3 linked regions of the Homo sapiens genome follow. The protein of the gene in region 1 binds, or shares a complex with, the protein of each later gene. Each region holds a gene or a part of one and is shown in the gene's direction. Other genes may lie near its edges.

Region 1 (3,749 bases):
TCCTGACCTCAAGTGATCCGCCCATTTCGGCATCCCAAAGTGCTGGGATTACAGGCGTGAGCCACCACACCTGATGCAGACTAATTCTCACATACAAACAAATGCATTTCACATCTTGACTGTGTGTGTATATGTGTGTTTGTGTATGTATATACACACATATATAACTGAACCAAATTTAAATATAATATCCTTGCTATTTCTGATTTACCTAGTATTTTCTGTTCTATTTAGGAAAATGATTATACTTAATTTTACCACACCCTAATTGGTCTCCACCTACAATGTGAAAAATACTGTCTTAAGTTGCCTCAGATGCTGACTGTCTATAAACAAGTTTCTGGAGTGTCCAATTATTTAGAAAAATAATTATAAGTTTTACAATAAATGCATTGCTACAATGAAAATGAAATGGAAAATACAAAATATTTCGTCTTGTAAAATTAAATTATGGCTTTTTTTGCAGTATGTTTCTATTAGGTGCATACATGTACATACATGTGCATACATATATGCATGAATATTTTTAGATGTTCTGCAAAACTGTTGATTCCGCTGCTCTGTAAGTTTGCACTTTATCACTCCAAAATAACTCCATTAAGATCGCGGCCGAGATCTCGCCACTGCACTCCAGCCTGGGCGACAGAGCGAGACTCCGTCTCAAAAAAAAAAAAAAAAAAGATCGCGGCCGGGCGCGGTTGCTCACGCCTGTAATCCCAGCACTTTGGGAGGCCGAGGTGGGCGGATCACGAGGTCAGGAAATGGAGACCATCCTGGCCAACATGGTGAAACCCTGTCTCTACTAAAAATACAAAAATTAGCTGGGCGTGGTGGTGTGAGCCTGTAGTCCCAGCTACTTGGGAGGCTGAGGCAGGAGAATCGCTTGAACCTGGGAGGCAGAGGTTGCAATGAGCCTAGATAGCGCCACTGCACTCCAACCTGGGCGACAGAGCAAGACTCCGTCTCAAAAAAAAAAAAAAAAAAAAACCGCCTGATCCAGGCCGGGCCTGGTAGCCCACGCCTGTTAATCCCAGCATTTTGGGAGGCTGAGGCTGACGGATCACCTGAGGTTAGGAGTTCCAGACCAGCCTAGCGAAATCCCCTCTCCACTAAAAATACAAAGATTAGATGGACGTGGTGGCACGCGCCTGTAATCCCTGTAATCCCAGCTACCTGGGAGGCTGAGGCAGCAGAATCATTTGAACTGGAAAGGCAGAGGTTGCTGTGAGCCGAGATTGTGCCACTGCATTCCATCCTGGGTGACAGACCCAGACTCCGTCTCAAAAGTAAAAAACAGGCAGGGTGCGGTGGCTTACGCCTGTAATCCCAGCACTTTGGGAGGTTGAGGAGGGCGGATCACGAGGTCAGGAGTTTGAGACTATCCTGGCCAACATGGTGAAACCCTATCTCTACTAAAAATACAAAAATTAGCTGGGCATGGTGGTGCGCGCCTGCAGTCCCAGCTACTCGGGAGGCTGAGGCAGGAGAATCGCTTGAACTCCTGGAGGCGGAGCTTGCAGTGAGCCGGGATCGTGCCACTGCACTCCAGCCTGGAGACAGAGCAAGACTCCGTCTCAAAATAAATAAATAAATAAAGTAAAAAAAAAAAAGGAACACTTGATCCCTGAGAACAAAGTCATCTTCATTTATTTCTCTTTCCAATCACAGGAAAAATAAGTCACAAAACCTTGTACTTTATTACAATGCCACATTGTTCTGTTTTTGAAGTCCTGGAAGAGGTAATAACAGAACCCCGTATCTGAGCCACTTCGCCTAGGTTAGACCCACTCAGCAACTCCCGTGCTGAAGACAGGAGACCGAGCGGCTTGGGCCCCCGGCCAGAATTCTCAAGACGCTCTCGCGAGAGCCTTCCAACCGCCGCGAGCTCTCGTGAACACTAGTTCTCTTCAATCTCAGCACCTCCAAGGGTCAGCACCTCCCCTCCGGCTCCCTCCGCTACCGCGGGCCGGAACTTTTGTCGATAGGAACGGGTTTGCACAGTTGAGTGTTGTCGGCCGGCGTGAAGGAGACTAGGGGGCCATCCTCTTCCTTTCGCCGTCGCCGCCGCGGAGCGGAGTCGAGCCGAGCTGATTTGATCGAGGAGCGCGGTTACCGGACGGGCTGGGTCTATGGTCGCTCCGCGGGCCGCTCCGCCGGCTGGTGCTTTTTTATCAGGGCAAGCTGTGTTCCATGGCAGGGAACTTTTGGCAGAGCTCCCACTAGTAAGCGATCTTCCGTCTTCTCACCTGGGGCCGGTTTTTGGGGGAGCTGTGAGGACGGGGCCTGTGACTCCCCTGGGCCTGGATCCCAGCTCAGTTCCGAGTGCCGGGGTCCTCACGGGAGACCGCAGCGGTCAGAATCAAGATGCGCTTTTCTGAGGCGACTCCCCTCCCCGCCCCCAGCCCCAGTTTCGGGGAGGGAAGGATCTGTGAGGGGGAGGGGTGGGAGAGAGTTTCGTCTCCCGGGAAGGAACGTTTCGGAGTTTAATTTCGGATTCTTGGTTTAGCTAGGCCGCGGGGGGTCGGATAGAGTGGGCACAGGTACGGGAAGTGTGACTCAGCTCAAGACTGTGAGGCTACCTGTTCAGGACAGTTGTGGCGTGCTTTTACCTGGGGTTTCTTCGGGTGATCGGCGTCGTGGTCTTTTGTCATTCACTGTATATCTTGAGTGGATTTAATATTATGAGGAGAGGAGAGAGTCTGGCTTGTTTCTGCCTACTAACCGCTTCTTGCGCGTACTTTATGTCTAGATGGAGTTTTATATTGATAAGGTATAGGGCAGGTGCCCTCTAAATTTATCCATTTCATTAGCCTGTGCTTTATATTTTGTTTTAAAGGCCTATTTTTCCAGTGACTTTGTTTACCTGTTTCTTTAACCTTTTTCATGAATAAGTTCTTGTTTCTGTCAGTGACCATGTGAGAGCTAGAATAATATTAAAAACATTTATCCCTAAATACATTTGTTTAAGCAGGCAGGAAGGTGCGTTATGGGGTAAATTGAACATTTGAGTAGGCTTTCCACTGTATAGTTGAAAGATGAACAGAATTTGACAAGGTATCTTGGTATAATTTTTTATGCTAAGAAAGCATTAGTAAGTAATTTAAATTTCGATTCTGTGAATAGGATCTGTTCCTGATGTTCATTTTTTAGCCCTTTGCAAAGAGAAAAAAAGAAACAATGAACTCAGTAACCTATTTAAGGAAAAGCAGGTTTTCCTCTTGCTATAAAGTGATTCTGTGGAGATGACATGTTAAAGAAGCTTTACCACTGATCATATGTGTGTGTGTGTATATATATGTGTGTGTGTGTATGTATATATATATGTGTGTGTATATATGTTGCATTGTTTTCACACACTGAAATATTGCTTGGGCAAAATTAAAGTATCGAAAGTTTAGGTATTGGAGTTAGAGCTCCTGAAAAAAAAAGTTTAGGTAGTGGAGAAGAGATATTCTGATAAACTCTGAAAGAAGCTGAGAGAATTGACAAGTAGCTGACTGTTGATTTTTCAGTTTTTCAACTTAAAAAAAAAAGATCCTGCCTTATTTTCAATAGTGTTCTCATTATGCTTTCATTTATTCATAGCATTCTAAAAATATGTTTTCACTTTTCAAATATAAAATTATTATAAAGTTAAGTGTACTTCTTTGAAACTATTCTTTTCTCCCAATTCAAATAGTCCTAAAAGAAGGGACCACTTTGCCTTGCTCAAATCCCTTGAGCAGTCATGGAGTTTCTTATCTGGAAAA
Region 2 (3,749 bases), on another chromosome or scaffold:
AGTTGACAGTGAGGACACTCAATTCCTTCAGGGAGAGTTCACCTTCACCCAGAGTGAAGCCAGCCAAAACAGTGTATAAAAGTACATTTTTAAAAGTCTGAGGCCAGGTATGTGGCTCATGCCTGTAATCCCAGCACTTTGGGAGGTTGAGACAGGAGGATCACTTGAACCCAGGAGTTAAAGACCAGCCTGGGCAACAGAGCGAGACTCCGTCTCTCAAAAAAAAAAAAAAAAAAAAAACTTAGCTGGGTGTAGTGGCACATGCCTGTAGTCCCAGCTACTCAGGAGGCTGGGGAGGAGAATTGTTTGAGCCCAGGAGTTCAAGGTTGTAGTAAGCTGTGATCGCATCACTGCACTCCAGCCTGGGTGACATAGCCAGACCCTGTCTCAAAATAAAAACACAAAAAGACAAACAAAAAAGGTCTGAGACCTTCAGTGTTCCAGAATAGTGTGTATAATTGGTACAGGAGGTGGGGAAGGGGGACCCGATACAGTGTAGGGGCAAGCTGAGTCCCATGCCTCTTCACAACTTTTCCTCCAGTGTGGTAGTTTGATTTCTCAAGATCCATGAGTAAATATGTGCACAAAAGACACATCCCTCAAAAAATACAAAATACATTGTCTAAGGAAGAATCTTTTAAATCCATATTCAGAAAATGATGTAATTCTTTAAGGATGCAAATGAGCAGTTCTGCTAGAGAGTTACCCAATTTTCATCACTGAATGGAAACAAATAATATGCCATTAATGAAAGCCTACATTTGTTTTGTGCTTTGCACTTTGCAAAGAAAAAATTCTAGGCTCCAAGAACACATTAGTAAATGACAATGCAGGATTCAAACCCAGTATAGTAAAATACTCAATACTTATATAGTATGCTAGGTAAAAACAATTTAATTTTACACAGTGGTGAAGTCACTAATTTTCTCCAAGGAAAATTATATAAGAGAAAGCCCTTTGGAGGCTTTTTCACAAGATGATATCATCATCATCATCATTGGTATATGGATCTTTTTGAGATAAACATGTTTATTCATTCATTAATTTAACAAGTGTTTACTGTGCATCATTATCAAGGCATGACACTAGGTTTTACAGAAGATGCAAATATGACTTCCTATAACAACTTAGGATCTAGCAAGGTAGAGGAAATAAAAGATGAAAGGAATTTGATAAATATCACAGGAAAGGTGGGAAAAAAAGTGTTAAAAAGTTCACATTAAAACTGCAAAGTTCATATTCCCTTTGGGAAGTGGGGAGCTTTAGTGGAAATGGTAACAATTGGAAAACCAAAAATTAAAAATAGACAAGGGGGGTAAGATAAAATGATAGATTAGTATCAAGATACCAGGACTCCTGAAGCAGGACATATTGCTACCTTAAGATTATTAACAAACTAGTTCCCATGGATTTAGATCCTTTCTGTAATCATAGCTAGAAACTGGTGTTCTTATAGGTAGTATCGCAGAAGGCTGTACTGTACTCAATACTTCCTGTATATGGATAGGAAAGGTTTGGATGGTCATCTGTCACAAGAGTAACAATGTTTAGGAGTAGCTTGGACACTGGTCATTGATTCACTTTTATTGGTGCTTGTAATGTCAGTATGTTGACATCATTGTGCAGCCCTTATCAGATTGTGAACACCAAGAGTACCCCAACTGCTGGCCCGCGAGCTGTTTACAAATATCATACCGGCTTTTATCGATGATAGTGGCCTTTAAAATCTGGAGTTCAGAGTGGCACAAAATGTGTTTCTAATGCAAACGACTCTCCTTCCCACGTGCACCTCTTTGATCAAGTTTGTGGCTGAAATCAGACTCTAGTTAGATCGCTGTAAAAATAAAAATAAATTTTCCCCAAATGATTGAAACGAATTTCACCCTAGACTACGAGTCCCATCATGCAACGCTCCCATATTCCCACCGTGTGGGGCGGAGTCGTAGAAGGGGCGGCAGCGGCGGCGGCCTGTGCATTCTGGGTATTGTAGTCTGGGGCCCGGCCACCGCTGGGGCTGGTTCCACGTGGTGCATTTGGCGGCAGCTTTGGGCAGTGGCTCCCCTGCTCCCTCCACACGGTCCTCAGGGTGCCAGCGCCAGCAGGGGCGGCCAGCCACCGCGGGAGCGGGCTAGAGTGTGGCCCGGAGGCAGCCCGAGGCTTCGCGACGTTTTTGCGACAGCCGCGGCCGTGTTCCGCGAGTGCCCTCCCTCCTCCTCTCTTTGAGGAGGTACCGGCTGTTGTGCGGCTCTGCCCTTCTGTTTGAGTGTATGGGAGAGTGAGTGAGTGAGTGAGTGTGAGCGTGTGTGTGAGAGCGTGAGGCGTGAGTGCGCGTGTGAGAGGACGAGAGCCCGCCTGGCCGCCCCGCCGCTCCCGCCGCAGCAGGAGCAGAACGCGCGGCCGGAGAGAGCGGCGGAGCCGGCGCCCAGGGAGCCCGCGGGGACAAGGGCAGAGACACCGCTCCCCACCCCCAGCCCTCGTCCCTCGGCTCTCCTTCGCCGGGGGATCCTCCCCGTTCCTCCACCCCCGGCCGGCCTCTGCCCCGCCGTCCCCCTGGATGTCCCTGGCGCTTTCGCGGGGCCTCCTCCTGCTCTTGCCGCATCAGTCGGGCTGGTGCTGCGGCCGGCGGGCGTAGAGCGGGCGGGTTCCCGGGGGCTGCGGCTGCCCGTGCTTCCCCGGTCCCCACCCCTGCCCCCCGGCCCCCCGACCCAGCTCTCCGGCCTCAGAGGCTGTGACAATGGACTATGACTTTAAAGTGAAGCTGAGCAGCGAGCGGGAGCGGGTCGAGGACCTGTTTGAATACGAGGGCTGCAAAGTTGGCCGAGGCACTTATGGTCACGTCTACAAAGCCAAGAGGAAAGATGGGTGAGTGTGTGTGTCTGGGCCGGTGTCCGCGCTGGGCGGCGCTCCCGCAGGCCGAGGCAGGTAGCCCGGAGGGAGAGCGGGCCGCCGGGGTGCCGGGCTCTGACTTCCTCGACGCCGGCCTCTGGCTCCGCCAGCCAGGTTTGGGGAGGAAGTGGTGTACGAGGGATCCAAACCCACGAGAAATCCTGCGTGCCGCGTCTGTGTTCTGCTCTGGTGGTAAGAGGCAAGATGAGCCTCTGCACCGTGGGCTGTATACTTTTCAAGGATTTCAAAGCTGATTCATGAAAAAATTCGTTCTAAAACGCCGGGTTAAATGTTTTTTGTTTTTTTTTTTCCTTGGTCGATTTATTATGGTAACCTTCTGGGGATTTCCTCACCCGCCTCTGGAGTGTCATCCATCGGTCTAGAAGGAAGGCTGTGATCCTTTCCCCCACCAGTTTGTGATCGATTTTTTATCAAATTTGTATTTTATTTGAGGAAAGGAAGGCAGCGAGTGAATGTGGTTCTGGAGAGAGTTCCCCATAGTGATCATCTGCAACATAAATGTTGCAATTGCTATTTAGATATTATTAGCTGTGAATTTTTACATAGAACAATGGGGGTTTGGTGCAGGGTGGGTGGTGGGGAAGAAGGCAAGTGACATAGGGACTATCTCGTTCAGGCGGTTTCCCCCAAATTTAGCGGCTGGCAGTGAACTTTAAATAATCCCTTTGCTTTAAATATTCTTCCCTAGTAACAACTTAATTAAACCTATGACTGGTAATGCTTCCAATTTAGTTTCTTAACAGGCAAGTGAATTGTTCATTTTTTCTCTTTGTCAGTAGATGAATGTCTTGTAATATTGACAAAAGAGAAGGCAATTCTTAGTTGGGGGGAAAATATATTTT
Region 3 (3,749 bases), on another chromosome or scaffold:
TGGGTGACAATATCTGAGACTCTGTCTCAAAAAAAAAAAAAACAACTAGTTTTTAAATTTATATTTTTAGAACTTTATTCCTAAGTCAAACTCCTAGGGCCCTTGTTGTTAGTGTAGATTGAGTATCCCTTATTCGAAATGCTTGGGACCAGAATTGTTTCCATTTTTGGATTTTTTCAAATTGGAGATGCTCAATCTGTTTCAACTGCATATATGGAAATTTAGAGCTGAGAGAAACTTTATATTACCTCTGTCTAACCTTCTCATTTTCTAGGTGAGCATATTTAAGTTCAGAAAAACTCACCTGTTTAAAGTCATAAATTGGTAATAGACTCAAGACTGAAACCTGGGTCTTTTAATGATTATTATGTTATTCTTTGAATTACATCATACTGCACTGCTGTTATGCTGCATTATTTTGGGGAATAAAAGATTTATAATCTTGGGCTGGGCGCAGTGGCTCATGCCTGTAATCCCAGCACTTTGGGAGGCTGAGGCAGGTGGATCACAAAGTCAGCAGTTTGAGACCAGTCTGGCCAACATGGTGAGACCCCGTTTCTACTAAAACTACAAAAAAATTAGCCAGGCGTGGTGGCACGTGCAAATTAGCTATTTGGGAGACTGAGGCAGGAGAATCACTTGAACCCGGCAGGTAAAGGTTGCAGTGAGCCGAGATCGCGCCACTGCACTCCAGCCTGGGTGACAGAGTGAGATTCCATCTCAAAACAAACAAACAAAAAAAAGATTTATAATCTTTGTAATACTTGATTTTTAGTTTCATTTACTACTTAAAAAAGTTTTTCTAGCTGTGTGTAGATTGCTGTGTTAAAAAAAAACTGAGTGGTTTTTAAATACAGTAATGAGACTCTCAGATTCATCGTGATTTATTACAACAAACTCAGGCTGGGCACAGCGATTCACCCCTATAATCCCAGCACTTTGGGTGGTCGAGGCAGGAGGATCACTTGAGGCCAGGAGTTTGTGATCAGCCTGGACAACATAGTGAAATTTTGTCTCTCTAAAAAGTTTTTAATATTAGGCATGGTGGCATGTGCCTATAGTCCTAATAACATGAAAAGCTGGGGCAGGAGGGAGGATCGCATGAGCACAAGAGGTTGAGGCTGCAGTGAGCCATGATCATGCCACTGCACTCCAGCTAGGTGACAGGAGACCCTCTCTCAAAAAAACAAAACCGAATTTGTTAGTAAGCAATGTAACATGAAGTGGAGATAAGTCACAAAATGAGATATAAAAGCCCTATACAGAATTATATTACTGCTGCTAATATTGTTCCAGAATAACAAATTTAGATGTGACTCACTTATTCTTTTTTTTTTTTTGAGACGGAGTCTCGCTCTGTCGCCCAGGCTGGAGTGCAGTGGCGGGATCTCGGCTCACTGCAAGCTCCGCCTCCCGGGTTCACGCCATTCTCCTGCCTCAGCCTCCCAAGTAGCTGGGACTACAGGCGCCCGCCACTACGCCCGGCTAATTTTTTGTATTTTTTTAGTAGAGATGGGGTTTCACCGTTTTAGCCGGGATGGTCTCGATCTCCTGACCTCGTGATCCGCCCGCCTCGGCCTCCCAAAGTGCTGGGATTACAGGCGTGAGCCACCGCGCCCGGCCGTGACTCACTTATTCTTATGTAAAACCACCGGAAGTTGACTGTTTTTAATCCACAAGTCATGCTAATTTAAATACTTGCTGCCGGGTGCAGTGGCTCACACCTGTAAACCCAGCACTTTGGGAGGCTGAGGCAGGCAGATCACCTGAGGTCAGGGATTTTCTATATACTAGTAGTCTTTGGTGTCTCCACAAAACAAAGGATTCTTTGGTCCTTTGGGAGGGTGCTACACATGCTATCTGTCCTCTTTTCTAGTCATAATACATGTATGCACACTAAAGTCTGAAAAACAGAGGTAAATAAGATAGTTTACCTAGCATTTCCCAAACTTATTAATACACAAGGAAAGGATTATTTAACACCTGTTAATAGTTTATTATCTTAGTGTTTCAGGGGATGTGTTCAGGAAACACAACTTTACAAAAAGTCCAAGGGACTATCTAGAGCTTTTCCTACTCAGTATTTATTTGCAGAAAGGATAGTATAAAGCGGGCATTCACCCTTAGATACATTGTAACAAGATTAGGACTTCTGGTTATGAACTATCACCTAAGGCATAATTTACCATACTTTTTGTTCACTTTTTTTTTTCATATATCTTATTTTAGTTTTATACTGTAGGCAGTAAAGCCACCTGGTTTGTTTCTCTTTGCTTGGAAATATAATGGGTTGTTAGCTAGATCCCTTTTTATCATAGGAATAGAGTACTGGTACTAATTACATTTTAAAAATTTGTAGTGATTTGCAGTGTGAGACTTGCTTATAACTCCATAAATCAAGAGTTTGTAGACAGTTGAAACATAGCTATTTTTGGTTATATTCCTAAATGTACTACATGAGTTTCTATATGTATTGCAGTTGCAGAGGAGAGAACACCTAAATATAAAATAGTACCTTATACAGTGTACAGAATGAGATCTACCAAGAGTTACTGCAGTGAACATCACCATTGTTTTATCATAGCTTTTTAATACTATATTGACTTATAAAAAAAATGACTCATTTAATTGGAGTGTGGAGTAGTTTATTCCTTTCTCCCACTATTCATTGCCATATCTAAATGAGTGTGCCAGTTTTTACCTACCCTCTATTATGAAATTGAGTGGGCAAAGCAGGCATCTGTGCACTGTATTACTTAGAGTGTTCTCAGTTCAACCGAAGATAGCTTGTTTAAGGTTTATTGTGCTGTAACCAAACTATTTGCTTATGCTTATTCCTGTTACTTTTTTCAGTGCTAGACGTAGGTATGTCTGCGTAGTCATAAAGGGTGTCATATATCTTAAGGACAGACTACTCAGGTTTAACTACTCAATTTAGTGCCTCCTTAAACATTTACTTTGCACATCTAGGCAAATTAGACTTAGCAGGTAATTAGAAATTCTTTTTCTAAGGATTATTGTATGGTCTCAAAAACAATAAAGCTAAAGAAAAGGAAATAGATTCAAAGTAAGTTTTGCACTTAAAAATCACTTCTGGCTAGGCACAGTGGCTCATGCGTGTAATCCCAGCACTTTGGGAGGCCAAGGCAGGAGGATTGTTTGAGGCCAGGAGTTCAAGACCAGCCTGGTCAACAGAACAAGAACCTGCCCCTACTTAAAAAAAAAAAAAAAAACATTTCTATAATGAATTAGTTAAAAGAGAACAAGCATTTTTATAGTGGCTTTCATTCATAACATAGGACTAAAATGTATTTCATCATTTTATAAGATATATTGGGAGAATAAGGTAAAACTAAATAGCAGATTATTTTCTGTTTGGCTGACTGATTGATTACCTGTTACCTTCTTAGGCCTCTTTGCACCTCCACGTGCCTTCAGTGCAATCTGACGAGCTGCTTCACAGTAAACACTCCCACCCACTTGACTCAAATCAGACTTCAGATGTCCTCAGGTACAACTCTTTTACCATTAACAGTTTGTCACTGCAACTTTAAAAGAATATAATGTTGATTCTTATATATTTTTCTCATTTTTGGCAAGAATTTACAGTTGTGTACCAGTGGATCTCTAGATAAACACTGCTATTCTAACTTGAGTAATCTACTTTTGAGAATAATTTTTATGGAAATTGCTTCTTTCCCCTCAAGGACTCTCTGTTACACTCTTTTTTAAGGTGACTTTGAGTCTTA

Evidence for each region.
Region 2: the proteins of CCNC (region 1) and CDK8 are in contact, whole or in part, in a crystal structure (PDB 5CEI), measured with the Homo sapiens proteins. Residues at the interface, in NP_005181.2 of Homo sapiens: Met1 (codon at 2,191), Ala2 (codon at 2,194), Gly3 (codon at 2,197), Asn4 (codon at 2,200), Ser8 (codon at 2,212), Ser9 (codon at 2,215), His10 (codon at 2,218), Gln13, Phe72, Tyr76, Lys79, Ser80, Ile81, Asp82, Leu85, Leu93, Lys96, Val97, Glu98, Glu99, Phe100, Gly101, Val102, Tyr130, His134, Leu136, Glu137, Glu139, Phe140, Tyr141; in NP_001251.1 of Homo sapiens: Met1 (codon at 2,735), Asp2 (codon at 2,738), Tyr3 (codon at 2,741), Asp4 (codon at 2,744), Phe5 (codon at 2,747), Lys6 (codon at 2,750), Leu9 (codon at 2,759), Arg13 (codon at 2,771), Gly58, Ile59, Ser60, Met61, Cys64, Arg65, Ile67, Ala68, Leu69, Arg71, Glu72, Leu73, Val84, Leu86, Ser87, His88, Arg91, Lys92, Val93, Asn145, Trp146, Val147.
Region 3: the proteins of CCNC (region 1) and MED13 are in contact, whole or in part, in a cryo-EM structure (PDB 8TQC), measured with the Homo sapiens proteins. Residues at the interface, in NP_005181.2 of Homo sapiens: Gln7 (codon at 2,209), Gln13, Trp14, Leu16, Gln19, Lys23, Gln26, Lys27, Arg75, Tyr76, Glu144, Leu145, Asp147, Cys148, Ser221; in NP_005112.2 of Homo sapiens: Tyr1342, Ser1630, His1631, Val1732, Lys1733, Thr1734, Thr1736, Phe1738, Gly1739, Pro1740, Gly1741, Ala1743, Arg1897, Met1898, Ile1901, Asp1905.

Annotation. Positions count from the first base shown.
Region 1 is NC_000006.12:99,566,969-99,570,717, reverse strand, and holds the start of CCNC (cyclin-C), read left to right. Parts: upstream 1-2,057; 5' UTR 2,058-2,190; coding exon 2,191-2,222; exon of another isoform or gene 2,223-3,152; intron 3,153-3,679; exon of another isoform or gene 3,680-3,749. UniProt on the Homo sapiens protein: Component of the Mediator complex, a coactivator involved in regulated gene transcription of nearly all RNA polymerase II-dependent genes.
Region 2 is NC_000013.11:26,251,908-26,255,656, forward strand, and holds the start of CDK8 (cyclin-dependent kinase 8), read left to right. Parts: upstream 1-2,221; 5' UTR 2,222-2,734; coding exon 2,735-2,862; intron 2,863-3,749.
Region 3 is NC_000017.11:61,946,679-61,950,427, reverse strand, and holds part of MED13 (mediator of RNA polymerase II transcription subunit 13), read left to right. Parts: intron 1-3,410; coding exon 3,411-3,511; intron 3,512-3,749. UniProt on the Homo sapiens protein: Component of the Mediator complex, a coactivator involved in the regulated transcription of nearly all RNA polymerase II-dependent genes.